Linked DNA regions of Homo sapiens. The protein of the gene in region 3 purifies or fractionates together with the protein of the main gene of each other region. This does not show direct contact. Each region holds a gene or a part of one and is shown on either strand. Other genes may lie near its edges. The genes, in order: NCOA4, ABI1, SLC30A6, PCDHGB5, PPP6R1, MAN1B1 and IQGAP3.

Region 1 (4,012 bases), on a different chromosome or scaffold from region 3:
CACCTGCACACCGTAAGCCCTCCACATTGCAGTGGTTATTGTTATCAGGTTTAGCTGACAGGCTGTGAACAGGACCTGACAGAATCCTTTAGCCATTTATCAGGGCTATGACCTTGCACCATTTGCCCTTGTGGAACCTAACTTCCTAATTCATATGTGAGGAATATAGACTCACAGACTTAGGGGTAAGGAGGTCGTGCTTATTTAATAAATATTAGATTTCCATCTAGTCTTTCACTATACAGCACAGCAAAAGGCAATCTTTTATTTACTCCAAAAACTCAATAGTCTAAATCCTCTAATATATACCAAGTATGGATATTTTTGACTGTTTTCTTACGTGTAGAAAGATTGGACCAAATCAGCTCTGATCCTAATATTCAAATCAATAAAAGATTACTAAAAATGTCTTTTTATCTTCACCATTATAATCCAAAATATTGCCTTGCCATCTTCAAAAGAGGACTGCCTTAAATGTTTATGTTTTGAGACAACATTAAAAGTTTAAGTGCTTTCTAAAACTTCCCTGCCTCTAGTATCCCTGTCCTAAATTTGGGGGTGGAGGAAGTAAAGGAGGAGGAAACACACATACCCTTCAAACGAATAACAAAACCTGGAGTTTCCGCAACAAGGAATTCTTTAAACTATATATGCCATGCTTACACAATGCTTTGCACAAATCTATTTGTGAAGTCTGAAGATCATGGCACCAGAATTGAGCAACTAACCACAAATGAAGTGGTTATGTAATGAAGCTAAGTCATTACTGTATGGCTTAACCATAAAATTTCCAAAGAGCTTTAACTCTTGTGACCCACACAAACTACAATTTAAAGCTGAAAAATAGCTCCTCACAAGCCTCTTTAAAAAAATAAAAAATAAAGCTGGAAAAAATCTTGGTCATCTCTTTAATATAACACTCTCATTCTACATATGAAGCCACAAAAGCCCAGATAGTTTAAGTGACCCATCTGAAGGGCCACAGCCAGAAGGGGTAAGATTTGGGTTTAGAACTACAGTTTCCAAGGTCTAGTCCTGGGTTCTCTCTCCCAGATGAGCTTGTTCTTCCTTTAGTGTATTATCACCTGTAAAGTATTTTTACTTGCCAACACTAGTGATTAAAATTAACATTCCAATGGATTACTATTGAAATAACTTCCGTTAAGATTTTCAGTCAATTTTCATAGTCCTCAGTAAATTATAACCACAATTGTTCAGAATCTTCTGCCTTGGATAACACTAACAAAAATAGTACTGGCCGGGCGCGGTGACTCACGCCTGTAATCCCAGCACTTTGGGAGGCCAAGGTGGGCGGATCACCTGAGGTCAGGAGTTCGAGACCAGCCTGACCAACATGGAGAAACCCTGTCTCTAATAAAAATACAAAATTAGCCGGGCGTGGTGGCGCATGCCTGTAATTCCAGCTAATCGGGAGGCTGAGGCAGGAGAATCGCTTGAACCTGGGAGGCGGAGGTTGCAGTGGGCCAAGGTCGCAGCCATTGCACTCCAGCCTGGGCAACAGGAGCGAAATTCCATCTCAAAATAAATAAATAAATAAATAAACAGTACCCTTGTATGTCATGATAGGCTCAGAAAAACCAAAACACTGCCAAATACCAATGCAAATAGTTTTGATTCAACGTCTGTATCACAGCCACTCCAGGCTTCATTCGTCTGTAAGAATGAAAGCTCAGACTAGATCATCTGTAACCTCACCTTCCAACTCTCACATTCTCTGCCCCCCTTGCCACCTGCCCCTGCCCCTCCAAAGACCTCTACTTTTTACTTATTTGCCTGGCATCCTAGTCATTGCTAAAAGGCCAAGCGCAGCATCTATCCACAGGATACCTATGTGTTCTATGAGTACTACACTCGAAATACTAACTGAACAATTTGGTTATCTTTGATGAGACAACCTGCATTAGACCGTCTGTAAAGCTTTTAGTTTAAAAAAATTATGTTAAAAAATATTTTGCAATTTTACCTTGAGACTTTTTTCACTTCACACGTTCTTTCTTCCGTCTTTTTTTTAAAGGTTGGTTTTGGGTTTTTTTTTTGTTTTGAGACGGAGTCTAGCTCTGCCGCCCAGGCTGGAGTGCAGTGGCGCGATCTCACTGCAAGCTCCACCTCCCGGCTTCATACCATTCTCCTGTCTCAGCCTCCCAGGTAGCTGGGACTGACTACAGGCGCCCGCCGCCACGCCCGGCTAATTTTTTTGTATTTTTAGTAGAGACGGGGTTTCACCGTGTTAGCCAGGATGGTCTCGATCTCCTGACCTCGTGATCCGCCCGCCTCGGCCTCCCAAAGTGCTGGGATTACAAGCGTGAGCCACCGCGCCCGGCCTAAAGGTTGTTTTTTATACAACTCATTAACTCAAGGATTATATACATCTTACCTTAGCCCCAGCCCATTTTAAATTCCTTATCAAGACAAGCAGTTTCTGAAATCCAGAATCTGGTTCTCTGTAATCTTTTTAAAACCACACAAACAAACGTTAATATCGCAACAGATTTAAAATAAGATAATAATAAATTCACTATTGAACATTTTAAGATTTAACACTTCAGAGTTTACTAGGCTCAGATTTGTCCACCTTTATACAAGCAACTGAGGGCAATAAATCCCAGCACATCAATTTTCTAAAGTAGTAACTGAAAACCGACCGCAAGGCATTTCTAATTCGAAAACAAGGCATTTCTAATACGAAAGCAACAGTGACTCATGCGGCTTTCTAGACTTCCCAAAAGCCCTTTCCAAGCGGCCTCAGGAGCCCTTGCCCTCGCCCCGGTCGCCGATTCGCACGCAGTTGTGCAGTCAGCCGCTGCGACCCGGCTCCTGCCCGGCGCCAGCCCTGCAAGGCTACCGGCCTCAAGGGCTCCCGCTACGGCCCCTGGGCTGCCAGACGTACCTCACAGGCCAGGTCACCGACTCACCAGCTGCCCGGCAAGCGACAGGCTGCTTTACCCCTGACCCGAGTGCGAAAGGTCCCCGAGCCCGGGCCTCGTCCCGCCCACGCGTCACACGGCAACTCCAGTTCGCCCGGGCCACTAGCGAGCTGGAGCGCTCAAGCCAAGGGCGGGGAGGAGCGGAAAACTCCGCCCATTGTTGCCCTGCTCCCAGCCAGTCCCCGCTGGCGCTCGCGGCCCCCCTGCAGCTCCCTCCCCGCTGGGCCTCCCTGCTAGACGCCTGCTGCCCCCGCCCGGCCCCCAGGGTAAGGCCAGCTAGAAGGACCTCGGATGGCACCTGGGGCTCCTCTCCAGCCTCTCCTCTCCCCACTTGCTCCACCCGATAATGGGCCCAACTCAATGAGAATTATATATGAACTATAATGAATTACATGAATTAAAATGTTTAGGACAGTGCCTGGCAATATAGCCCTACCTACCTGTGACTATCATGCTTATGGTACTTCTAGCTTTCCCTTTTCTCCAAGATAATCCTCATAGCCTGCATATGCAATCAGGCCAAAAGATGAAATCTAGACAATGTTGTAATTCTATTACCTTTCAGTCGATTTTTTGAATGTAAAATACTTGCTGTTGTCTATGCATATAAAGCTGTTTTTGTTAATATTAAGAGTAAAGCAAAATCACATGAGAAACACCAAAGGGGAACACTAAGGAGCCATTACCCTAAATTAAGTATCCCTTAGATTTCAGATGAACAGAGTGGAAGTGCCTGCTTTGTCTGTGATGCATACAATTTCTGGGACCCCAATCCAGGCATTCATTATCAAAAATAAGAAAATTTCTCCCTAATTCCAAAAGCCCTCCTTGGATAATACATTTCGTAAAGACACAAAAAAAACAGACATACTTCTGAATGACTAAAGTTACAATTTTATGGTCCTTTGTACTAATTTACATCAATGGCAACAAAGAAGGAATTCTATTAAAATATAACTCATGTCAGGAACTTTCATCTATTTTATGTGCCTCTGAAAAATGGCTGATCACAATGTAAATACAAAGAAACTTTGTTGGCCGTCACCTACTTAACCAACGGTCTCTGT
Region 2 (3,944 bases), on a different chromosome or scaffold from region 3:
AAAGAAAAAAAAAACTATTGGATAAAGTGAGTGCCTTTGGAAGAAAGGAAGCTGATTTTCATCATAAACCCTCTGTACTTTCATTTTGTTATGTCTTTATTCTTTATTTTTTAAGTAAGTTTTACTTGTGTTTTTTTTACATTTAAAAATGTTGTATAAAGATACTTTGTACATAGAACTTCTGAGAAATTCTAATAAGTAAAAATTAGGGGAAAACGAATGACTATGTAATATTGATGAGCTAGTTGCTTTGCATGCTAATAGAATAAAAATTTGCTTCAATATGAGAAAAAGGCCTAAAGGAAGTTAGCACTATGAGTCGGGAAAAGAACATTAGAGATGTAGTTTGACTGTTAACTGTAATCCTCAGCTCATCTGATCTCAAAACTATGTGTTCATTTATTATAGCAGGAAGTTAAAACGCTGATTCAGTCAGTGACAGGCATCTGTTCTGTTTTGTTCTGTATCTTATAGAGTGATGGTGTGCAACAAACAACCTACCTCGCCCAGCAGTACTGCCATGAAGCAATAAGAGAGATCAGTAAACTTCGACCATCCCCAGAAAGAGATGCCCTCATTCAGCTTTCAGAAATTGTACTCACAAGAGATAAATGACAACTCTTTCTGTTCTTTCTGGCAGCTATCTTACCAGACTGTGCCTAAAGAATTTTGTGGAATACACTTTGTTTGCTTCATGTGCAGATAACCAAAAATCATTTTAAAAGATATCAAACTTATTGATGGGCAATTTATTTTTTTTTATTGCAAAAGTTTTTTCAGAAAACTTTTTAAATGTAATTAATAAACCACCTGAATCTGTCATTCTAGTCCTATAAATTATAATCAAGGTATCTTGATGGTTATATGTGGTATTGTTTACACTGTTAATATCCACATGTAAGGCCATTACACAAATAAATAACCAATGTTAAAATTCAAATGGTTTGTCTTGATTTACCGTAGGAGTAAAGGTCAGAAAAATGTGAAGTCTGCATTGAAGTCCACATGAGTTATATTTTAACAGTATCCAAAATTTCATATAGGAGAATGGTTTATTATAAAAGACTGTACATAAAATTTAGACAACAGGTTATATACAAATTAAGAGAACAATCCACTTGAAAAATGGAAAGTAGAAGGTAGCTAGCTGATCACTAATGATACTTTGTTTGTTTAAAATTAACAAAGGCAAAATGCATATGAAATAGTCACATTGATTTGGTAGCAATAATGGTCTTTAATTTTCAGAAATAACTGTTTTGCACTAGTCTTACCATTCACTATGCTGTTATAAGTCTGTAGCATCCAGTACATAACTGTAATTTGAATTCCAAACAAATCCTCAATAACACAGAAACCCACACTTGAGTGCTCTACTTTAATATCCTAAGCAATAGAGAATTATACACAAGACAAGAAGAGAAAACATCCCTCAGCCCTCCCTTCAATTAAGAGGAGACACACAAAGTGCATGTGTTGCATTTTGATTATGTCAAAAGACAATCCAAGTCTGTTGGTTAGGTAAATCTCTGTTCACTGATTAATACATGACCCACCTTCTTTCCCAATTATTTTATTTTAAAATTCTAATGTTGCTAGTGCCAGGTAATGGATTAAAGAGTGCCTACTCACAAATCAACTGTATCCACTTTTACAATATGTAAAAGGTACTTTTAACTTCCTTTCATTGAACCAGTGTACAACAGTTCACTGTACAACTGAAGGACTGACATGGCAATCCTTAAGAATTTTACCTACAGAATGAATGCACACAATTTGACACATTTTCTTAGTTTCAAAAGATTATTTAAAAAAGGAATTCAGTAGATTGACTTGTAAATAACCATTGCAGATTTTGAATCTGCAAAAATCCGTCACATTGCTGTTGGGACAGATTAAGATAAGGCTAAAATTTTTTTCCAAGTTAACATATTGAGAAAATAGAATCATAATTCTGCAATAAATCATTATCTTTTATTTTTTTTAAAGCAAATCAGTGAAGGAAAGGACAAAAACCTTTGGTTCACTTATGTATTTATGAATGGAAAAAGTTTATAATGCAAATTTCACTCATTAAAAAACTTAGGTACAAATTACAACATTACAGATAATTCTCTTTTTGCTTGTTTCACATGGAGACCTTGGAGACTCAATTCACGTTAAGACACCTAAGTACGAGTCCTCCAGGTAAATATTACACAAATGGGAAGCATCTTGAATTTTTAAGTATATTTCAATACATAAATTTTTATGCATGCTTTAAACAAACAGTATTTTTTTTAAATGAGAGAATCTAACAAAAAAAGTCTGACCAGCACCAGCATTTAAATTTTCTGATTTTAATATTAGTCTGACATAGCGTTAGTAACCATGCTGCACTGAAACATGTAATGGTACAATCTGAATCATGATTCGTTAAATATTATACCCCACTTCCCCCAGAATATTTAGGCTGGTCATAAAGTTAAAAATGTGTAAGTAAGTACATAAGCATAATCAGTTATGGACAGCTTCTTGTATAAATTGCTATTCAGCAATACATAAACTGCCTCAAAGATTTATGCTTACAGGTAGACATTCAATTTACCAATAAAACAGCATGTTCTGAAAATATGGGCACATTTTAAAACATATTAAGACAGTTCTGTTAACCATAATAGTCCCACAGTATGACTGAGTAATAAGAATCTACTTCAAAAGAAAAAAAAAAATTAATCAGTATAGTGCATGATTGATTCAACATAGTTCCCAGGGAACAGACCAGTCACTCGATTGCAGACTCCTTCATACCAGCCATCATCATTCTTCTTTATAACATAAATGATTGCACCCTCCATAAATGACAGCTCATCATCCTTGTCTTTTGTATAATCATATATTGCAACAACTATGGAAAAAACAGTTGAAATATCACATGAGTGCACTATATCCAAAATTTACTTGAATTTTAAGACAAAGACAATTAAATATATAGCACAGCAAAACTATTTTTATGAAGATTTCTTAATTTTTGTATCTATCAATATAAGTAGGTCAGTGGCCAACCATGTACTTAAATCATTGGCTTAATCTTAGAGCCAAATGACAATCTGATTAGACTGAATACATCAATAGGTTCTGTCAATCACTTTAAGAAAGCTCTCTGAATTTTAGAATTTATTAGATGTTTCAATTCATTCAAATACCAAGTGCCTATCATATGCAAAGCACCGGCTTTTCAAAATAATTATCAGGCAAAGAAAGCTGCATAGCCATTCAGTAAACCAGGTAACAATCCAAGCTATCTAATTTGAAAAAACACAGTTACTGGAAGGTAAATCACATCCTACTCATTCAAGGACCCATGCTAATTTAAGGGACTGTCCCCAGATTTTTTTTTAAAGAATATTTACTTACTTTAAAGGATTTTAATTAATACTTAGAGAACTTTGCAATTCTGTGGTGTCTGTAATTTTTTCAGTTCAAGATACAGGTTGAGTAACCCTTATCTGAAATGCCTGGGATCAGAACTGCTTTGGATTTGGGATTTTCAGATTTTGGAATTTTACATATGCGTAATGAGACATCTTGGAGATGGGACCCAAGTCTAAACACAAAACTCATTTTTGTTTCACATACACCTTATACACATAGTCTGAAGGTAATTTTATTTTTCCCTTGGGAACACTGAATAAACTGTGTCATGTGCCTGCATTTTGATTGTGACCCATCACGTGAGGTCAGGTGTGGAATTTTCCACTTGCGGCATCATGTTGGAACTCATTTTGGATTTTGGAGCATTTTGAATTTGGGACTTTCAGATAGGGATGCTTAGCCTATATTCACTTCCTTTGCAAACTGCTATGGAAAGAGAAAGTAATCCAAAATGTATAAAATGGCCCATGGACAAATCCAAACCACGCAATTTTTGTAAATAAAGGTTTATTGCAATATGGCCACATCTA
Region 3 (4,012 bases):
GGCGGGTGGATCACAAGGTCAGGAGTTCAAGACCAGCCTGGCCAACACAGCGAAACCCTGTCTCCACTAAAAATACAAAAATTAGCTGGGTATGGTGGCTTGCATCTGTAGTCCCGGCTACTCAGGAGGCTGAGGCAGGAGAATCACTTGAACCTGGGAGACGGAGGTTGCAGTGAGCCAAGACGGCACCATTGCACTCCAGCCTGGGCGACAGAGCAAGACTCTGTCTCAAAAAAAAAAGAAAAAGTTAGCTGGGCATGGTGGCACGCGCCTGTAGTCTCACCTACTCAGGAGGCCGAGGAAGGAGAATTGCTTGAGCCTGGGAGGTGGAGGTTGCAGTGAGCTGAGATTGCGCCACTGCACTACAGCCTGGCAACAGAGCAAGACTGTCTCAAAAAAAAAATAACTAAATAACTAAATAAAATAAATAAAAATCATAGCATTTATAATAGGGTGGTCATTAGGCCATTACCTTCCACATTCACTTCAAGTGAATTTGATTTCCAAATTGAACAATTCCTCATATTTTTCCACGTTTGCCACTATATTATGGCTCCTAGTATGTTATTGTGAAGAACATGAACTTCCCTCAAATAAAATTCTAGGTAGAGTTGAATAAAGTATTAAAAGTATCCACCTTTTCAATTCCCTGATATAAAATAAAATGATTTTATTTACTATTCCATCTTACCTCTCTGATGAGTTTGTCCAACTGACCAATAACATGGGGTGGTGTTGTCTGGGGAAAAATACAATAAAATATGAATAATGGGGGAAGGAAAAAAGTTTGCCAACAATGGTCCTGAACCCCCTCCCCAAAAGGATTTTAAGCCAGCCTTTGCTTTGACAGCTGTCCTATCATGATTTAGAGAAGAGAGGTTTCAACTGGCCCCACTAGTGGAACAACATCATCAACTGGCCCACACCTGTTTTTTTATCTTGAAGATAAGATAAAAAGATAAATAACACTTAAACAACCAACCAACCAACAAAAAATCTTTGGGAAATGGTTACAAAGGTCGTATTTTGTATAGGGCATAGCACTATGCAACTATTATCTTATTTTTATTTTTTCTGGAGATGGAACTACTGCCCTAAGTCTTGGAAAAGGCATAGGGTAAGACAGAAGGAACCACAGTGCTTACACGCACATCCGGCCCTGGGAAACTGCCTTTTTTTTTTTTGGAATCTCGCTCTGTCGCCCAGGCTGGAATGCAGTGGCGCAATCTTGGCTCACTGCAAGCTCCGCCTCCCGGGTTCAAGCCACTCCCCTGCCTCAGCCTCCTGAGTAGCTGGGACTACAGGCACTCGCCACCATGCCCGGCTAATTTTTTGCATTTTTAGTAGAGATGGGGTTTCACCGTGTTAGCCAGGATGGTCTTGATCTCCTGACCTCGTCATCTAACCACCTCGGCCTCCCAAAGTGCTGGGATTACAGGCATGAGCCACCGCGCCCGGCCGGAAACTGCCTTTCTATTCATATTCAGGGTGTTCCTATCATTTCAGTAAGTAGCAATGTGTCATTTAAGATTTTAAGTTTGAAATTTTAAAGTCTCACTGATTCAGTGGCAGGAAATAATAAAATAGTCATAAGCAGATTACACAAAAGCCAAAGCACATTTACTGAGGGAAAATAAATATCTAAAAAAAATTTCAGGCCGGGTGCAGTGGCTCACGCCTGTAATCCCAGCACTTTAGGAGGTTCAAGGCGGGTGGCTCACCTGAGGTCAGGAATTTGAGACCATCCTGGTCAATGTAGTGAAACCCCAGCTCTACTAAAAATACAAAAATTAGCCAGGCGTGGTGGCACATGGCTGTAGTCCCAGCTACTCGGGATGCTGAGGTAGGAGAATCGCTTGAACCCAGGAAGCAAAGGTTGCAGTGACCTGAGTGTAGCGCCACTGCACTCCAGCCTGGTCAAGAGAGAGAGACTCTGTCTCAAAAAAAAAAAAAAAAAAAAAAGAAGTAACATTCTTTTCACTTGAAAAATAATAATAGCTTTAAATTTGTGATTTTGTCACAATATAAATATAGGAAGATTTGTGACTATTTTACTTGCTAATGGACTTTCATCAGGTTCTGACTATATGAATGTCAGAGATTATTGTTTGACTTCATTTCTAGCAGGGGCTTCCAGTAACTAAAAATTTCACAATCTGTACTGTTAAAGGGAGGGCATTAAAAAAAATGTTGTTTTGTTTTTTTGAGATGGAGTCTTGCTCTGTCACCCAGGCTGGATGCAGTGGTACAATGTCAGCTCACTGCAACCTCCGCCTCCCGGGTTCAGGCAATTCTCCTGCCTCAGTCTCCCGAGTAGCTGGGATTACAGGTGCACGCCACCACGCCCAGCTAATTTTTGTATTTTTTTAGTAGAGACAGGGTTTCACCATGTTGGCCAGGCTGGTCTCGAACTACTGACATTGTGATCTGCCCGCCTTGGCCTCCCAAAGTGCTGGGATTACAAGCGTGAGCCACCTCTCCTGGCCAAAAAACTTTTGTAATTAAAAATTATGACTGGGCACGATGGCTCTCGCGTATAGTCCCAACACTTTGGGAGGCCGCAGCAAGAGGATCATTTGAGCCCAGGAGTTTGAGATCAGCCTGGGCAACATAGTGAGAGCCCATCTCTACAAATATTTTTAAAAATTAGCTGGGTGTGGTGGTGTGTGCCTGTAGTTTGTTACTCAGGAGACTGAGGTGGGAGGGTCCTTTGAGCCTGGGAGGTCAAGGCGGCAGTGAGCCGAGATCCCACCACTGTACTCCAGTCTAGGTGACAGAGCAAGGACCTGTCTCTAAAAAAAAAAAAAAAAAAATTAAAATTAAAAAATAAAAATAAAAATTTCACAATCTTGTAGAACAACACATACAACTTTTTAATCTGGTAGAAGAACATGGCTAATATTAAGCACGTGCATTGGAAGAAGCACCTTACCTGGAGTAAGACTTTCCCACTGTACACACTCATGGGATACATAGTGCCAAATGTCATCAAGGCAATAGCTATAGCAGAGGCAGTGTCTACGGCAAAATAATTACTAAAAGGAAAAAACAATTCTAAATTTTAAATTTATATCTCACTGGGCATATTACAATTAAATCTCCTGAACATTAATTATCTAAAGCAACAGGACTGAGCAACAGGACACAATTTTATCACAATTGGCCACTACTTGCAAAGAAACATTTCAAAGAAAAATACTCCAGTTTTTAGAATTCTTTCCTTTCAAAGTTTAGTGGAAAAATAACTAATAATTATGTTAATTAGTAGGAAGAGGTATGATGAAAAAAAATGTGGACATTTCCCCGTCAGGCATTTTTTTGTCAAACTATCTGTCAACTAGAAAGAGCTGAAATATGTTTATTTGCTTGAGACAGACAAAAAACTTCAACTAGTAATTTTTTTTTAAAAAGAGACAATAAAAAGAGGTTTTTTAATTCAAAGGTATAACTGGTAAGTAGATCTGTTTACAATCATTCTTGTGAAATACTTTTTAAAAAAATATGACCAATTTATTTGCAAATAGCAGACACATACCTCAACTATGATGACCTAATTTTTGGTGCATAATATACATGATTAGGCAGAAATAGGCAACCTCATACTGGTAGATTAACTATCAAATAGTCAAAACTCCGTTTGTGGCTCCCACTTCTTGATCGATTTCTATTCCCTCTTCATCTTCTACCATCTTGTCAACTTCCTGAGCGACTCCCTTGTGGACTCTGTCTAACTGACCGGCTGCCAGATCGACCACCTGATCGGCCCGACTGGCCACTTGACCAACCACTCCTCTGTCTGGAATTAGAAGATGTGTTTCTATCATAATATTCTTCAATTTCAGGTAATTTGGCTGGCACTGAGAATATCCAGTCGGAATCATGCCACTCTGCCTGTAACCTTTCTGACTTAGTTGTAGGAACATCAAAGCAAACACGCACATTTCCTTTCAGGAGGCACATTCTGGTAATCTGAGACACTGCATTACTACTCAGCTTTCTGTTAAGTTCTTTC
Region 4 (4,012 bases), on a different chromosome or scaffold from region 3:
CAACAGCTATTGGGATCAGACACCCAAAGGATGACCTGAGAAGGGATAGTGGTGGGGAGGAGAAGCATGTGCCAAGCAGGAACTTCAGAATGTAAGTCTTCTTCATTTTTTCTCCCTTTTTCTTTCTTTTCTTCCTTCCTTCCTTCCTTCCTTCCTTCCTTCCTTCCTTCCTTCCTTCCTTCCTTCCCTCCCTCCCTCCCTCTCTCTCTTTTTCTTTCTTTCTTTCCTGATGGAGTCTCGCTCTGTCACCCAGACTGGAGTGCAGTGGTGTGATCTCAGCTCACTGCAACCTCCGCCTCCTGGGTTCAAGCGATTCCCCTGCCTCAGCCTCCTGAGTAGCTGGGACTACAGGTGTGCACCACCACACCTGGCTAATATTTTGTATTTTTACTAGAGATGGGGTTTCATCATGTTGGCCAGGCTGGTCTCAAACTCCTGACCTCAGGTGATCCACCCACCTCAGCCTCCCAAAGTGCTGGGATTACAGGCGTGAGCCACCACACCTGGCCAGGTCTTCTTCCTTCTGTCTAGGCAGTGTGACCCAGTGCTGACTTGAACTTGAACCAAGTTTACTGAAGAACTCAATACTAGCCCTGCTTTGAAGCTGGTGTGTCTGACCAGACCAGGCTGGAGGGCAGTGGGCAAGATGGTGGGGAGGGAGTGAGGCAGGGCATCAACAGAAGGCTGGAACCAGGGTTAGACTGGATAAAAGGAACCTCTCCTCTTCATCCCCTCACTCCAGTGCCAGCAAAGAGAAAACTCCCTGCCATTCCCTTGATCCCAGGAGGCCTCACCACAAGGCTTTTGCATAGGCTTTTCCCATTTGGAATGCTCTTCCTTCTGTGTAGGCAGTGTGACCCAGAGCTGGCTTGATCTTGAACCAAGTTTACTGAAGAACTCAACACCAGCCCTGCTTTGAAGCTGGTATGCCTGACCATCTGGAATGCTCTTCCTTCTTTTCTTTAGCTGGTTAATTTGTATTTGTCTTTCAGATCTCAGCACAACTTCATTTCCAGGATGTCCTCCTGCTCCCTAAATCAAATCCCTATTATACGCCCACACCACCAGATACAATTCTACCTAGCACTTATGACAGTTTCAGTCTCACATTTATTTTTGTAATTATTTGGTCAATATTTGTCTCCTTCAGTGCACTGTAAACTCCTTGAGGGCAGGGGCCTCCCACATCGAGAACACTGCCTGGCCAACAGAAAGTGCTCACTGACCATTTGTTGAATGAATGAAGGAGAGAAGTTGAAGTTACTGGACTAGATCCTAACGCTTATTTCACTTTGGAGCCGCTGAATCAAAAATGTTTGTTGTGGCCGGGGGCGATCACACCTGTAATTCTAGCACTTTGGGAAGCTGAAGCAGGTGGATCAGTTGAGGTCGGGGAGTTTGAAACCAGCCTGGCCAACGTGGCGAAACCCATCTCTACTAAAAATACAAAAATGAGCTGGGTGTGGTGGTGCACACCTGCTGTCCCAGCTACTCGGGAGGCTGAGGCAGGAGAATCGCTTGAACCTGGCAGGCAGAGGTTGCAGTGAGCCAAGATCGCACCACTGCACTCCAGCTTGGGCAACAGAGCAAGACTCTGTCTAAAAAAAAAAAAAAAAAAGGTTTGTTGCATCCTCCACAAGTTAACTAAGGAAGCAGAGAGAGGAGAGAGAGAGAGGTTCCGCACCTTCTCCTCCATATCTCCAAGAGCTCCCACATGTATTCCAGGCCACTAAGCCTCTCATTTGATGGAATGGGAGTTGAGGCAGGGGTAAGGTGCTCACCCCAGAGGACACATGAGAGGCAGTTGGTGGGGCTTCCAGGTTCAATGGTGAATTCTGCTTCAAAGCCAGTGTATGGCCTGGGGTGGTGGTAGGTAGAGGGAACATAAATGGCCTAGAACTTCTCAATGTCACCTCCTCCTAGAAGCCTTCTCTGATCTTCCCCCCCCCATTACACTCACATTGTTCTCTGCCTCTCAGAACTTACTGTGATTTGTGGCTAGATTATTTTTTTTTCGTGATCTCAGCTCACTGCAACCTCTGCCTTCCGGGTTCAAGCAGTTCTGCCTCAGCCTCCTAAGTCGCTGGGATTACAGGTGCCTGCCACCACGCCTGGCTAATTTTTGTATTTTTAATCGAGATGGGGTTTCACCATGTTGGCTGCCAGGCTGGTCTCAAACCCCTGACCTCAAGTGATCTACCCACCTTGGCCTCCCAAAGTGCTGGGATTACAGGCGTGAACCACAGTGCCCAGCCTTTTTTTTTTTTTTTAAGTGTTACTTGTTGCAAATTTTCAGTCTCCTCTGCTGGTCTGGAAGCCTATGAGTTCTGGGATCACATCTACTTGTTCACTCCTATAGCCCAATGTTTAGCACAGGGCCCTGCTCATAGTAGATGCTCGATAAATATTTGTTGAATAAATGAACGAATGAATACATTAATGACTTAATGGATAACTTATGAGAAGGTTGGCAAGGCCAGCAGGGAGAAGGACAACAGCTGGGGTCAAAGGAAGGGCAAGGGCAGCCCAAGCCTTTTGATCTGCTGCTTTTTAGGGGCCTTCTAAGAAGCGCTTTGCGTTCCTAAAATGGGTGACAGGACTGTGCATGCCCAGAAGCTGGAATCTCTGCCATACACCAAGGGCTCCTGGGTCCTTGTGGCAACAAGGGTTTGGTTGGTTGCAGGATGGGGGAAAGATAACTCTTGGAAGCTCAGCATCTGTAGCAACTTGGCAAATGTGGACAGCAAGTACTCAACCATTGAGGAGGTAGGGTAAGGTGGCCCAAGCTCCTGCTTCTCTCCCTGGGCTCTGAGACTCCTCCAGGCTCCTGACTTCTAACTGGGAGGCCTGGCGCAGAGCCTATCCCACTCTGCTCAGACCAACTGAAGGTCTTTCTGCTGAAGTTTCCCTCCCCTTCAGCCCGCAGGGGGTTCCTGTCTCAGCAGGAATTCATACCAGATTGAAATGAGCAGCTGGGGCTGCTTGGATGGGAGGGTGTCTGGTGGAGAGCTGCGATCAAAGGCTCAGTGTGTGAGGGGCAGGGAAGGAAGAGAGCGGGGTGTTGGTGGGTGGTGGGTGGGGGGTTGTGTGTGCTGGCTTGCCCACAAGCACAAAAAAATGAGAGACAGAGACAGAGGCTCAGAGAAAAAAGACAAGATAAAAGAAAAAGAGAGATAAAGAAAGAGTAACAGAGAAAGAGGCAGAAAAAGACAACAGGCACAGAGACCAGAGACAGAGACAAAGAAAGATATACAGAGACAGAGACAAAGAGAGACAAAGAACAGAGAGGAAAGCAGAAATAGTGAGAGACAGAGAAACATAGAGGCTGGGGATAGAAGAACACAAGGCGCTAGGAAACGGTGAAAGGAGAAACAGAAAAGAGGTCCAGGACAAGGACAGGGAGGCAGAGATAGAGAAGGAGAAAGAGACTAAGGGTCCCGTGTAGTTACTCACTCCACATTTATTGAGCACTTATGCCATGGCAGGCACAGTGGGCGGCACAGATCAATGCAAGTAGACAAATGAAAGGGACTGAGGCTGAGGTGCAGCAATCAAGACGGAAGCTAAGACAGAGATGGAGAAGAGAGGGAGAGGCAGAGATTGCAAAGCGAGATAGAGACTGAGGGAAGGACTGAGAGGTAAGAGAAAGTGGCAAAGACGGAAACTCAAGAAAAAGGGGCAGAGACACGGAGACCCCACAGACAGAGAGCAGGACAAGTAGGGGCAGAGGACAGTGGGAGGAGGGGCCGGAGAAGGGGGCCTGCTCCATGCCCCGCCCAGTCCTTCCTCAGTTCCACCTCCAGCTGTGCTGCCTCCACTCTCCCCAGGCTGCAGTCAGCCTCGGCTCTGGAGGCTCTGGAGGAGGCGCTGAGTGCGGACCGCCTCCTCCGGTCAAATGCTTTTCTGCCTGAGCCCCAGGTCATAATGGAGCCCAGCTCAACTCAGGGGAGGGGGTTAGGCAGTACATGGGCATAGAAAGCCTCGCTTTCACCCAGAGACCAGCTTAAGACCA
Region 5 (4,012 bases), on a different chromosome or scaffold from region 3:
CACTTGAGGTCAGGCATTCAAGACCAGCCTGGCCAACGTGGTGAAACCCCGTCTGTACTAAAAAAATGCAAAAATTAGGCCGGGCGTGGTGATTCATGCCTGTAATCCCAGTGCTTTGGGAGGCCCAGGCAGGCGGATCACAAGGTCAGTAGTTCGAGACCAGCCTGGCCAATATGGTGAAACCCCGTCTTTACTAAAAAAACACACACAAAAATTAGCTGGGTGTGGTGGCGCACTCCTGTAATCCCAGGTACTCAGGCTGAGGTGGGAGAATTGCTTAAAACCGGGAGGCGGAGATTGCAGTGAGCCGAGATCGCGCCGCTGCACTCCAGCCTGGGTGACAGAGCGAAACTCTGTCTCAAAAAAAAAAAAAAAAAAAATCAGCCAAGAATGGTGGTGCGCACCTGTAGTCCCCACTACTCGGGAGGCTGAGGCAGGAGATATGCTTGAACCCAGGAGCTGGAGGTTGCGGTGAGCCGAGATCGCGCCACTGCACTCCAGGCTGGGTGACAGAGAGAGACTCTGTCTCAAGAAAAAAAATAATAAATAAAGGGTACAATTCAGTGGTTCTTAGTGTATTCACAACGTTGTGGAAACATCACCACAATTGATTTTGGAACTTTTTTTTAATCACCCTTTCCTTTCAGGAACTTCGCCCAATCCCCGCCAGCTCCTGGAAGCCTGTAAGCTCTTTTCTGTCTCTATGGATTTGCCTGTTCTGGATGCTTCACATAGTTGGAGGCCTGCAGTGTGTGGTTCCTTGGGACTGGCTTTGCTGGCATGGCATGGGCAGCCTATCAGCCTGCTTGGTCTCCCACGGAGAAAGAGGCTGTGTGTGTGTGCTTGCCACGTCTCGGTGCTTTGCTCGCCACAGCCTTAGGCCGGAAATTGGCAGAGTCATGATAAATTTGGCGGTTGCCCCTTGAGATTATTCTGGTCCCAGGTACACCCAGATCAGGAAATCCATTCCCCCTCCCGCTTCCCTCAGCACGCTGGTGAGTCACCTTTGCTGAGCCTGAGTTTTCTCATCTGTGACATGGACACTTGGTGGTCGGCCTGTCGCATTCCTTGTCAAGCGGGCTGGGAAGTAGGGGATGGTCCCTTGAGGAGGTCTAGCATCTGGGCAGAAGTGGGGAGGTGGGGAGTTACCACTGTGCACACAGAGGTTCCCGGAGCAAGGAAGGGAAACAGTTGTATTTCCTTGTGAGGTGGTGGTGCCTTCGTCACTCTTGACACAGGGGAAAATACACACCCATTGCCTGCCCAGGGCGATCTTGCACTTTCCCCCACCTCCTGATTTAGGGACCCCGTAGGAGTGGCTGGGAGGGGCCGGAGTGGGAGTGATTTCACTTCGTCTAACGCCCTGACAGGTACGGCAGCCTCCTGCCTGGGAGGAGCTGGGGCCTTGTGAAAATGAGGTTTGCTTTTCAGCTAATACTTGTGAGCGTTTATTGCCAGGGCCAGGTTCCATGCTAGGTGCTGCCCTCAGGTGCCCATGGTAACCTAGGGGGAAGGTTCTAGAGGAAGCATTGTAGGGCCACGAGTGTGTACCTCCAGTGCTTCATTGCTGTGTCACAGAGATGCTTCCAGGCGGCAGGTCAGAACGCACAGCTCAGGGAGACAGGGAGACAGTGGTGGACAAAGGCGGGGCTGGGGGCTGCTTGAGCCAGGCAGGCCAGGGAAGGCCCTTCTGTGAGGTGAATGCTTAGTAAGAGATCTGAGGATGAGAAAGTGAGTTATTAGGACAAAGTCGCTGGGGTAGACCCAAGCTTAGTGTGTTCTGAAAACAGAAGGCCAGCTTGGCCAGGGCAAGTAGGGAGTGGGAGGTCATTGAGGGTCCCAGGCGCTGACCCGATGAGAGGGCGGTTCTGATTTTCCCTTCAGCAAGCTCTGCATGGCTGTGGGGAGAGGGAACGAGCAGGGGTCGCCTGCGGTCGAGTGTGGGGGGCCTGCCGTCAAGTGGTGGTCATGCAGGCAGAAGGGGTGGGATGGTTATGTTTGGGGAGGTCAGCGGTGCCTGGGTCGGGGTGGGAGGCCTGATAAGTCCCTAGATTTCTGGTGGTGCTGGGTTGGAGGAGAACTCAGGCCTCTGGCCGAACTGTGCTGTCACAGCTGGGCTGGGAGGGTCCTGAGGACCACAGCCCTCCATCCTGAATCCAGGGATGTCTGTTGAGTAAGCACTAGCAGCTGGGGACAAGGTGGACAGGGAGTTTACCATCCAGACAGGTCCCTTCAGGGTGGGCCTGGAAATGGCAGGCTCCTCCCTGAGGTGAGAGTCGGGGTCACTGTGGCCAGGGCTAGTCCCTCAGGCAGAGCAAGTGCTGGAGCCGGCTCAGCGGGAACTCGCTCATTCATCCCTTAAGTGTCCACTACACAGGCCCTGTGCTGGGACAAGGGCTCTGCACCCTGAAAATACAACTTCTGAAAGCTGAGAGTGCCAGCTTCACTGCCCGCCAACCCCTGGATCGGGGCATAGGCATTTACTTTGGTGTGCCTCAGTTTCCTCTCCTGTAAAATAAGGCCATTCCCTGGAGGGTGGTTGTGAGAGTTGGTGGAGGTGATGGCTGTGAAGTCCTTTTCAGAGTAGTCAGCGCAGTGCAGGTGCTGGAGCGCAGTGGCTGATACCATCGACATCATTGCCTGGAATGCCCCCATCCACCCAGACCCGCAGGGCCTCCTGGATATCCATCCAGCACTGTGCCTCAGGCAGCCACGGGCTGTGCAGGAGACACCTGAAGTGGCAGCCCCAGGAGCACTGGCGAGGTGGCATGGGGCACGGCCTCCCCAGGGCACTGGGGTCACCGTGGGCATGGAGGTCAGTCAGTGAGCTGGCTGGGCAGGGGCACGAGAGCCTGGATGCAGGCTTGGTGGAGTGCACATCACCGAGCAGGTGCGGGTACTCATGTTTGTGCTTTAAAAGGATTTTTTTTTTTTTCCGAGACAGAGTGTTGCTCTGCCACCCAGGCTGGAGTGCAGTGGCGCAATCTCGACTCACTGCAACCTCCGCTCCCGGGTTCAGGCAGTTCTCCTGCCTCAGCCTCCCGAGTAGCTGGGACTATAGGCACACACCACCATGCCCGGCTAATTTTTGTATTTTTAGTAGACACGGGGTTTCATCATGTTGGCCAGACTGGTGTCAAACTCCTGACCCCGGGTGATCTGCCTGCCTGGGCCTCCCAAAGTGCTGGGATTATAGGCGTGAGCCACCACACCCAACCTTAGAAGGAATATTGGGAGTCTGGGCATGGTGGCTCATGCCTGTAATCCCAACACTTTGAGAGGCCCAGGTGGGCGGATCACCTGAGGTTAGGAGTTCAAGGCCAGCCTGGCTAACGTGGTGAAATCCCATCTCTACCAAAATAGAAAAATTAGCCGGGTGTGGTGGCAGATGCTTGTAGTACCAGCTACTAGGGAGGTTGAGGCGGAAGAATCGCCTGAACCCGGGAGGTGAAGGTTGAGGTGAACCTAGATTGTGCCACTGCATTCCAGCCTGGGCAACAGAGTGAGACTCCTCAAAAACAAAGGATTATTGGGAAAAGTGGACTGGTGAGGGGTAAGTGGTGAGTCACTGGGTGCTGTGGACTGGGACCTGGCAGGCCCCCCAGAGGAGCAGGGGTTCAAATGCCTGGAGGCTGCTGCTATCTCCCCTAGTCCTCCTGCTGCCGCCATGACTGTCGTTGGTCACGGAACTCTTCCCTCTGCTCCACCCTCAACTGTCATTGGCCAGGTGTAGGGACCCATATAGTGTTATATCAAGATTGTTGCCAATCTAGAGTTACCGAGGCAGACGGGCAGACTGGGAGCAAGGTCTGGACTGCAACCTTCTGTGCTGAGCCCAGCCTTAGGGTGGTCAGGGTGGATGAGCAAGGAGATCCTGGCCCCAGGCTGGCCTGGCTTCAAGCTAGCCAGGAAGGAGAGGAAAGGAGGCCCAAGAGGCGTTCGACCTGCCTGAGGCCATGTGTGGGACTCTGTCCTGCGTTTTGTCAGCCCAGGCTGCTCTCCTAAGCTCCGA
Region 6 (3,362 bases), on a different chromosome or scaffold from region 3:
TGTCCCCAGAGGGACACAGGTGGCTGCTGTGGGATGTTGGGGGTTGTGGGGACAGGCAGAGCCGAGGCCCACACTCGGGGCCCGGACGTCCCGAGGGGCGGAGCTGGCAATCCTGGGCTGGGTCCGGGTAGCCCTGCCCTGTGCCGCCACCGGCTCTGGCTTCCCAGGGAAGGGGAGTCTTCCGGAAGTGAAGGTGATGGATTTTTCACAGGGGAGAGCGAGGGGGCGTGGTCCTAAGAGGTCACCTGGTTCAGGGTCGGGGGGAACCCAGCCAAGGCCCAGGGTCAGCCCTGGGATAGGGACAGCAGTAGAGTGATGATGAGGACAACTCTGCCACCACAGCCCAGGGCTCGGGGCCATAGCCATGCCAGGCTGCTGGGAGCTGCCTGACCTGAGGGCCCGTGTATCCCTCAGCTGTGCGCCTCAGTGCCAGCCCTGCAGGGAAACAGGCCCTGTGTGAAACGCAGGCGCAAGGATGCCTCCCGCCAAGCATCTGCCCCGTGGGGCCAGGGACACGGAGCTTCCCCGTGGCCTCTCCCTGCCCACCAGCAGGGGACAGCTAGAGTCCAGTCTCAGCAAACCGAATTCTGAGACGTGACTTGAAGAATACCTTCTCCCCAACGTCCGCCCAGACTTTCCAGTCATGGAGATCCCTAAAGACACAGGCGACATCGCGGTTAGAGCAAATCAACTTTTATCTCCACCGAAAAGACCCATTCCACTGGAGGGGCCCGTGAGCTAGACGGACTTGCCGTCCAGCCCTCCAAGCCCCCTGCGGGGCGGCCAGGAGGATCCCTGAGTCCAGCTTGTAAACACCAGAGCCAGCCCTGGAGCCTCAGGCCTCTGGAGTCACGGCAGCCCCTCCAGACCCTTGGATTGGGGACATCTGAGGCTTCACGAGCCCGGGCAGAGCTGCACCCTGGGCTGTCCACTCGGTCACCCCAGTACCAGGGACCACCTCGAAGCCCCCCTCTGGTCGGCCCACAGAGACCTGCTCAGGCTTCAGCAATCGTGAGTCATGATTCGTGTCTTCTGGAGGAAGCAGGCGGAGGCTCCAGCGGCCCAGCCCACCCCGCATCACACCAAGACTGACGGCCTCACTTGTCCTCACGGTGTCCTGATTAAAGCAGAGACGAGGAGGAGCCCAGAGCCAGTTCAGAGCCTGGGCCACTTGGCGGTTGCCGGTGCTACGTGGGCCCTTGGAAAATGCCACAGACCCAGCAAGGTGCCTCTGCCCACCCGAAGTCCCCACACCAGCAGCCATCCACCCTAGGCAGGGGTCCAGATAGGCAGAGGGTGGGCTTCGGTGTTGAACACGTAGGCATCCAGGCTGAGCAGGTTTGGGTCATCGGAGAAGAGCAAGAACAGATACTTGAGCGTCTCCCCCAGGAAGAAGCTCTCCATCTTGTCCCTAGGCTCGGGCTTCTGAGGATCCTGGACATTGTTGATGGAAGAATAGCCACCCGAGGGGACCTGTGCAGCAGCCAGGGCCTCGTCACCACACGGGGGGCACCCTGCACCCCCCTCAGCCTCATCACCGAAGCGCTCTCCACCCCATGGTGAATGTGGCCCCCAGCGCAAGCTCAGGGTGGAGGGCGCCTGGATGATGGCCACCCCCAGGCGAGCCGTGTGGTTCCACCGGAGCCCACCTGGAAATGCCAACAACCCTCAAGTGACCACGACAGAAACCGCCTCCCCCAGAACCTGGGCTCAGGGGGCCTCACAGTTGCCGCACAGGGCACAGGGCACAGGGCAGACGGTGGGAGCGGAGGCAGCGGGGGCCTCAGGCCAAGATCACAGCAGAGCCAGGAAGTGACACTCTGGCGTGGAGGGCGTGACCTAAAACAGGGCCTGGTCCACAGTGGGGATGGTGCCCCAGTCATGGGTGCGTGTGCCTCCTAAACTGGGGGGATGCTGGGCCCACAGCAGAGACCCTCCCTAGACAGGCCCTGAGAAATGAAAATGAGGGGTGCCCAGCCCCTCCAAGTACTCTGGGTCCCACAACCATGAAGCTCAGTGGGGATGGGGATGCCAGGGCCCCCAAGCTGCAGTGTGGCCACCCCGAGGCTGCGGCAAGCCCGCCCCTCCCGGATCCAGGTCACAGCCACCACCAAGAGCGGAGCCAGCCTGAGCCCCACAGCCCAGCCGTGCCTGTGGCCCGGTGGCCGTGACCACGCGGGGCGAGGACAGGTGCTCACCCGTGTGAATCGGCTGAAGCTCTGCAGAATCTCCCAGCCCCAGTCCTGGTATTTGCGGTCCCCTGTGACGCGGTACAGGTAGAACAGGCTCTCCACGGTCTCTGGCCGCAGCAGGTTGTGCCTGTCTGCTGGCTGTGGGCGGAGCAGAGCTCAGGGCAAGGCCAGCCCTGCCAGCACCCTCCTCCTGATGGACCCTGACCCAGGCCCAGGCCCACCTTGACCTCCACGTCCCGACGGCCCGGCTGGGGGTAAAGGTTGAAGTGCACGATCTCGGGACTCAGCCCCGTCTCCATCTGCCGGTTCATCTGGTAACAAGTCTCCATGAGCTCCTGGGCCAGCTCCATGTGGCTGGCGGGCAGGCCGTGGTAGACGCCCAGAGCCAGCGTCCCTGGCAGGAAGCACACCAGGTGGTCCTGGAATCAGAGGGTCTCTTCAGCCCCAGATCCCAGGCCCTGCCCTCAGCCTGCAGCTGCACGGGCAGCCAACGTGGGAGCCCAGCGCTGCCTCGGCCCTGGTACCCTGGGAGGGGAGGCCACGCGAGGGCACTTGGCATGGAACAGCGGAGCTGCCTGGACCAGGCCCTCCAACCCGGCCCCCACACACCGCCCGAGGACCTGCTACACACCGGGCACGGGGAGGGAGCTGCCCTGGGGAAGCCCTGCCCACCCCAGGTGCCACACAAGGCCTTACTGCCCTGTTGCCAAGACAGGCCTGGCCAGGCAGCCACGGTCCACCCAGGGCCTCCACGTGGGCGCCATGGCCAGGATTTCGTTCTTTTTGACATCATGACTCAGGCACCTTGGAAGCCAAGGTAAAAGGGGCGGCGGCCGGAAGGCCCCGCAGACACACTCACCATCTTGGCACTGAAGCGGCCGTGGGCAAGCTCCCCCACAAAGGTGAGCTTACTGGGCTCGGAGTGCCGCAGCAGGTGCGTTCTGACACCCTCGATGGCTTCCACGTAGTCTTCCAGCAGCCTGTGGACACCAGCAGTCATCTCACTCTACCAGGACGGTGCATCGGCTCCCGTGGGGCACCAGGGACAGGCACATCCTGGGCCCACACAAGTACAGCAGGCCTGGCCCTTGCCGGACAGAAGGTGCCACCCTGCACAGCCCATGGCCCTCAGTGAAGATGCCCCCCTCACCCCCCCAGAGGCCACGGTGA
Region 7 (4,073 bases), on a different chromosome or scaffold from region 3:
TTCAGCATAGTTGTTGGTGTCATAATTATTTTTTATTAGTTCAGGCTCTTTTTTTTTTTTTTTTTTTTTTTTTTGAGACGGCGTCTCACTCTGTCGCCCAGGCTGGAGTGCAGTGGCACAGTCTCAGCTCACTGCAACCTCTGCCTCCTGGGTTCAAGCGATTCTCCTGCCTCAGCCTCCGGAGTACCTGGGATTACAGGCATACCCCACCACGCCTGGCTAATATTTGTATTTTTACTAGAGATGGGGTTTCACCATGTTGGCCTGTCTGGTCTTGAACTCCTGACCTCAGTTAATCTGCCCGCCTCCGCCTCCCAAAGTGCTGGGATTACAGGTGTGAACCACCGTGCCTGGCCTAGTTCAGGCTCTTATTATCTCTCTTCTGTGCTACTGCAGTAGCCTTCCAACTGGTCTCTGCCCCTAGCCTCACCCCCTTCCAATCCCCTGCTATAAGATGGCTCTTTTTAAAGGACAAATCTGGCTCTGACCTATGTCTAAAGTGTTCCTTGGCTGGTGACTGCTCACCAGACCCCATGCCAGGGCCCTAGCATGGTGCCCAAGGTGCTACTGGACCTGGCCCTGTGCCTCCAGGATCCCTTCTGGCCTCTCCCTGGCTGAGCTTTGTTCTCCTCTAAAACTGAACCAAGTTTAAGTTCCCGAACTCACCTCCTCGTTCTTGCACATGCTGTCTCCACTGACTGCACTGCCTCTCTTCTTCAATCTGATGAATTCTCTTTCACTTCTCAACCCAAATCAGCTGTCACTTCCACCAGGACGTCTTCCCTGTCATTCGCTGCTCTTATTCACAGCAATGACCCCCTCCCTCTGTGCATCACCGACCTCTAATTTATTTGACTATATGTCTATCACTTGTGCCAGAACAGCAAACTCTTTTAGAGCATTCACTGCCCTCATACATCTCTGCATTCGCATCACCTAGCTTAGTGCATAGCGCCAAGTAGGCCCACAAGTTAGCCGGACTCGGGAACACATAGGAAGCAGAGTAGGGGTTAATGGGAATACTAGGTGGAGATGACAGAGGCAATGGCAGGGGCAGCAGCTAGAATAAGACTGTTAAGCAGAAAAGGAGCCTGGAAGGAACAAGACGAGGAACTGCTGTAAGGGGAGCGGTACTGCCCCGGCCTGGGGCGCCTCTTCTCCCAGCACCTGGGCGGCCCGGCTCCGCGGCCGGGAACTACAAATCCCAGGATTCTCAGCGGTGTGGACGGGAAGTGTCCTGTCTGGCGGTGCCGACGGTGAGGGGCGGTGGCCCAACGGCGGGAGATTCAAACCTGGAAGAAGGAGGAACATGGAGAGGAGAGCAGCGGGCCCAGGCTGGGCAGCCTGTGAGTGCGGAGAGGGTCAGAGAAGGGTCTCGCAGTGGTGCCGCTGGTCGGGGGCTTGGCTGTCCCGGGAGAGATTGGGGCGTGTGTCGGGCGTGAAGCCTGAGGGGCGAGGGCGGTGGGACTGCTCAGTGGGACGGGAATCCTCAGCCCGGGCGCCGTGGGCCCGAGTGGAACTGTGAGCGGCGCATTGTCCCCTGACTAATGTGCTGCGCTTTAAAGCTTACAAAGAACTTTCTTCCTATTTCCAAGTTCTGGGGTTCCGGAGTCGGGAGAATGTAGGTGATCCTAATGGCTCCTTGAAATTCAGCAGTTACTGCTGGCTACCAAACTTGCCCAGCGATGCCACCGGACAAGACGCCTCAAGGGATCTGGGGGACTCTTAGGCTTTGAGATGCCGCTTTCAGACAATGCCTGTCAAACAGGGGGTGAAATTACCCGGGAAGCTTGTTTGAGATGCAGATTCCTGGGACCTGTCCCAGAGCTTCAGTTCCAGAAGGTCTGGTTTGGGGCCCATAATCTGCATTTATAACAAGCACTGCTGTGCTTCTTCCCTCACCCCAGGTGATTGTGAGGAAGGTAGTCCCTGGGCCACATTTTCAAAGACACTGTTTTAGAGAGAGAGACTGGAGCTGGAAGGATGGGTGGGGCAGAAAGGTTCTATCTGATTTTCTGAATGAAAGGAAAACCTGCTCCTTCCACCACTCCCTTCCTTTCTATTAGGATTCAAAGAGCAAAGTCCATGTCCAGTCTTCTGTTAAAGGAAAACTAGTTCCAGACCTGAGAAGGACAGGAAAACTGTTTTTCGGTTTTTTATTTTTTTGAGACAGCATGTGTATGTACAAAATCCCTCCCATCGCCCACAGTCCTCAGTTCATAACTCTGAGATGATGTCATTCACTTACTGGTTTATTTTCCATGCTTAACAACCAACACTTGTTCCTTGTACACCCCCTTGGAGGAACTGATGGCTTTCCTGTGGTTGGCCAGTGTTTTCAAATCTGTATTTGGAGGGGTGTGTGTGTGTGTGCACGCATGTGTTTTAATTTACTTAACTGCTCATTCATATAAGCTCTGCCCTTCCCTGAATCATTGCAGAATATGCAATATAAGGAAATAGGATAACAACCGGGAATGACATTAAGTGCTGAGTCAAAGACAGATTGGCTAAGCTCTGCCTTTTTTCAAGCTCTCTGAGTTTATTTTCTTACTGTGTGTGTAGCTTTCTCTTACTCTTTCTGTTTGATTTTGTATTGTGTTTCTAAGGAGAATAGAGAGAGGGGAGAGAAGGGAGAAGGATTAAGGGAGACTGTAACTAAGGCAAATTATGATTGCTGTCTCACTTGAGGGATTCTCTATTCTTGAGTTTTGGAATCAGTACTCTGTATTTTATTTAGCTTGAAGATTCTTTTCCTCCTCGGGTGACCTATACCAAAAAGGATAGTGAAGATACCTTTGTGATCTTTTAAAATTTTCTTTGTCCTTCCACTTAATCCCAAGTGAGTGGCATGTTTCCCTCTGTTGGACTGCCTTTCCCTGTGTTCCGCCTATTTATTCCTTAAGATCTAGTTCATAGCTAGAATCCTTTGCTTCCTCTGCTGCTCCCATAGATTTTATGCATGGGCTATAATCATACTTATCATGTTAGATTAATTTATTCAGATGTTTTTCTCTTCTGATAATAATCTTTGGGCGCTGTGGTTCACGCCTGTAATCCCAGCACTTTGGGAGGCCAAGGCGGGAGGATCACTTGAGCCCAGGAGTCCAAGACCAGCCTGGGCAACATGGTGAGAACCAGTCTCAACAAAAAACGCAAGAATTAGCCAGACATGGTGGTGCGCACCTGTGGTCCCAGCTATTTGGTGGTGGGGGGGCTGAGGTGGGAAGATCACCTGAGCCCAGGAGGTCAAGGCTGCACTACTGCACTCCAGCCTGGGTGACAGAGTGACACCCTGTTTCAAAAACAAAACAAACCCACCAATATCTCTGTTGTCCAGGATGGAGTGCAGTGGCACGATCATGGCTAACCGCAGCCTAGACCTCCTGGGCTCAGGTCTAGGCCCAGTAGCTGGGAGTACAGGTTTGCACCATCACACCAGGCTAATTTGTGTATTTTTTGTCAAGACAGGGTCTCACCATGTTGCCCAGGCTGGTCTCAAACTTCTGGGCTCAAGCGATCCACCTACCTCAGCATCCAGAAGTACTGGGATTATAGGCATGAGCCACCATGCAGGCCTTTATCTCTGCATTTCTTAAGAGTAGGGGTCTGCTAGTCCAGTGCCTGGCATAAAGGAGGTATTGATGAATGAATGAATGAGTGAATGATGAATTCTGGTTGGTTCTATTACCTCACCTCTGAGAGAGTAACCAACGAGGATGACACAGGTCCAGTTCTTGGAGAACTCAGTCTAATTAGGGATAAGAAAAGGAGTTAAGTTTCAAGCCAAGGAAGGCTCTGGATGTCCCAGCTGGGAGGTACTGAGGGAAGTTCCATGAGTAGACTTGAGGAGGAAGAGGACAGGAAGATGGCTACAGAGGAAAGAGAAGTAATGCCTCCAGCACAGGAGGAGGCTGCCTATTAAAGGGTATCCTGGGAAGAGAAGGAGGGACACATGGGAGATGTTTCAGGTCTCTGAGCAGGGTTGCCTAAACAAGTCTGTTGAGAAGATGTTTCGGCTGGGCATGGTGGCGGCTCAAGCCTGTAATGCCAGCACTTTGGGAGGCCAAGGC

Evidence for each region.
Region 1: the proteins of SLC30A6 (region 3) and NCOA4 purify together in Homo sapiens (affinity purification with mass spectrometry; one large-scale study listed by BioGRID and IntAct). This does not show direct contact.
Region 2: the proteins of SLC30A6 (region 3) and ABI1 purify together in Homo sapiens (affinity purification with mass spectrometry; one large-scale study listed by BioGRID and IntAct). This does not show direct contact.
Region 4: the proteins of SLC30A6 (region 3) and PCDHGB5 purify together in Homo sapiens (affinity purification with mass spectrometry; one large-scale study listed by BioGRID and IntAct). This does not show direct contact.
Region 5: the proteins of SLC30A6 (region 3) and PPP6R1 purify together in Homo sapiens (affinity purification with mass spectrometry; one large-scale study listed by BioGRID and IntAct). This does not show direct contact.
Region 6: the proteins of SLC30A6 (region 3) and MAN1B1 purify together in Homo sapiens (affinity purification with mass spectrometry; one large-scale study listed by BioGRID and IntAct). This does not show direct contact.
Region 7: the proteins of SLC30A6 (region 3) and IQGAP3 purify together in Homo sapiens (affinity purification with mass spectrometry; one large-scale study listed by BioGRID and IntAct). This does not show direct contact.

Annotation. Positions count from the first base shown.
Region 1 is NC_000010.11:46,020,422-46,024,433, forward strand, and holds part of NCOA4 (nuclear receptor coactivator 4), read right to left. Parts: intron 2,958-4,012; exon of another isoform or gene 2,909-2,957; intron 1-2,908. UniProt on the Homo sapiens protein: Cargo receptor for the autophagic turnover of the iron-binding ferritin complex, playing a central role in iron homeostasis. Acts as an adapter for delivery of ferritin to lysosomes and autophagic degradation of ferritin, a process named ferritinophagy.
Region 2 is NC_000010.11:26,745,859-26,749,802, forward strand, and holds the end of ABI1 (abl interactor 1), read right to left. Parts: intron 2,888-3,944; coding exon 2,712-2,887; 3' UTR 738-2,711; downstream 1-737. Other genes in the region: all trans-polyprenyl-diphosphate synthase PDSS1, read left to right, coding at 475-615. UniProt on the Homo sapiens protein: May act in negative regulation of cell growth and transformation by interacting with nonreceptor tyrosine kinases ABL1 and/or ABL2. May play a role in regulation of EGF-induced Erk pathway activation. Involved in cytoskeletal reorganization and EGFR signaling.
Region 3 is NC_000002.12:32,203,613-32,207,624, reverse strand, and holds part of SLC30A6 (zinc transporter 6), read right to left. Parts: exon of another isoform or gene 3,407-4,012; intron 3,036-3,406; coding exon 2,933-3,035; intron 740-2,932; coding exon 692-739; intron 1-691. UniProt on the Homo sapiens protein: Has probably no intrinsic transporter activity but together with SLC30A5 forms a functional zinc ion:proton antiporter heterodimer, mediating zinc entry into the lumen of organelles along the secretory pathway.
Region 4 is NC_000005.10:141,495,147-141,499,158, reverse strand, and holds part of PCDHGB5 (protocadherin gamma-B5 isoform 1 precursor), read right to left. Parts: intron 1-4,012. UniProt on the Homo sapiens protein: Potential calcium-dependent cell-adhesion protein. May be involved in the establishment and maintenance of specific neuronal connections in the brain.
Region 5 is NC_000019.10:55,248,765-55,252,776, reverse strand, and holds part of PPP6R1 (serine/threonine-protein phosphatase 6 regulatory subunit 1), read left to right. Parts: intron 1-647; coding exon of another isoform or gene 648-683; intron 684-4,012. UniProt on the Homo sapiens protein: Regulatory subunit of protein phosphatase 6 (PP6). May function as a scaffolding PP6 subunit. Involved in the PP6-mediated dephosphorylation of NFKBIE opposing its degradation in response to TNF-alpha.
Region 6 is NC_000009.12:137,106,499-137,109,860, reverse strand, and holds the end of MAN1B1 (endoplasmic reticulum mannosyl-oligosaccharide 1,2-alpha-mannosidase), read right to left. Parts: intron 3,173-3,362; coding exon 3,052-3,172; intron 2,612-3,051; coding exon 2,414-2,611; intron 2,331-2,413; coding exon 2,199-2,330; coding exon of another isoform or gene 1,899-2,198; exon of another isoform or gene 1,483-1,898; intron 1,474-1,482; coding exon 1,270-1,473; 3' UTR 678-1,269; downstream 1-677. UniProt on the Homo sapiens protein: Involved in glycoprotein quality control targeting of misfolded glycoproteins for degradation.
Region 7 is NC_000001.11:156,569,766-156,573,838, reverse strand, and holds the start of IQGAP3 (ras GTPase-activating-like protein IQGAP3), read left to right. Parts: upstream 1-1,273; 5' UTR 1,274-1,309; coding exon 1,310-1,346; coding exon of another isoform or gene 1,347-1,361; intron 1,362-4,073.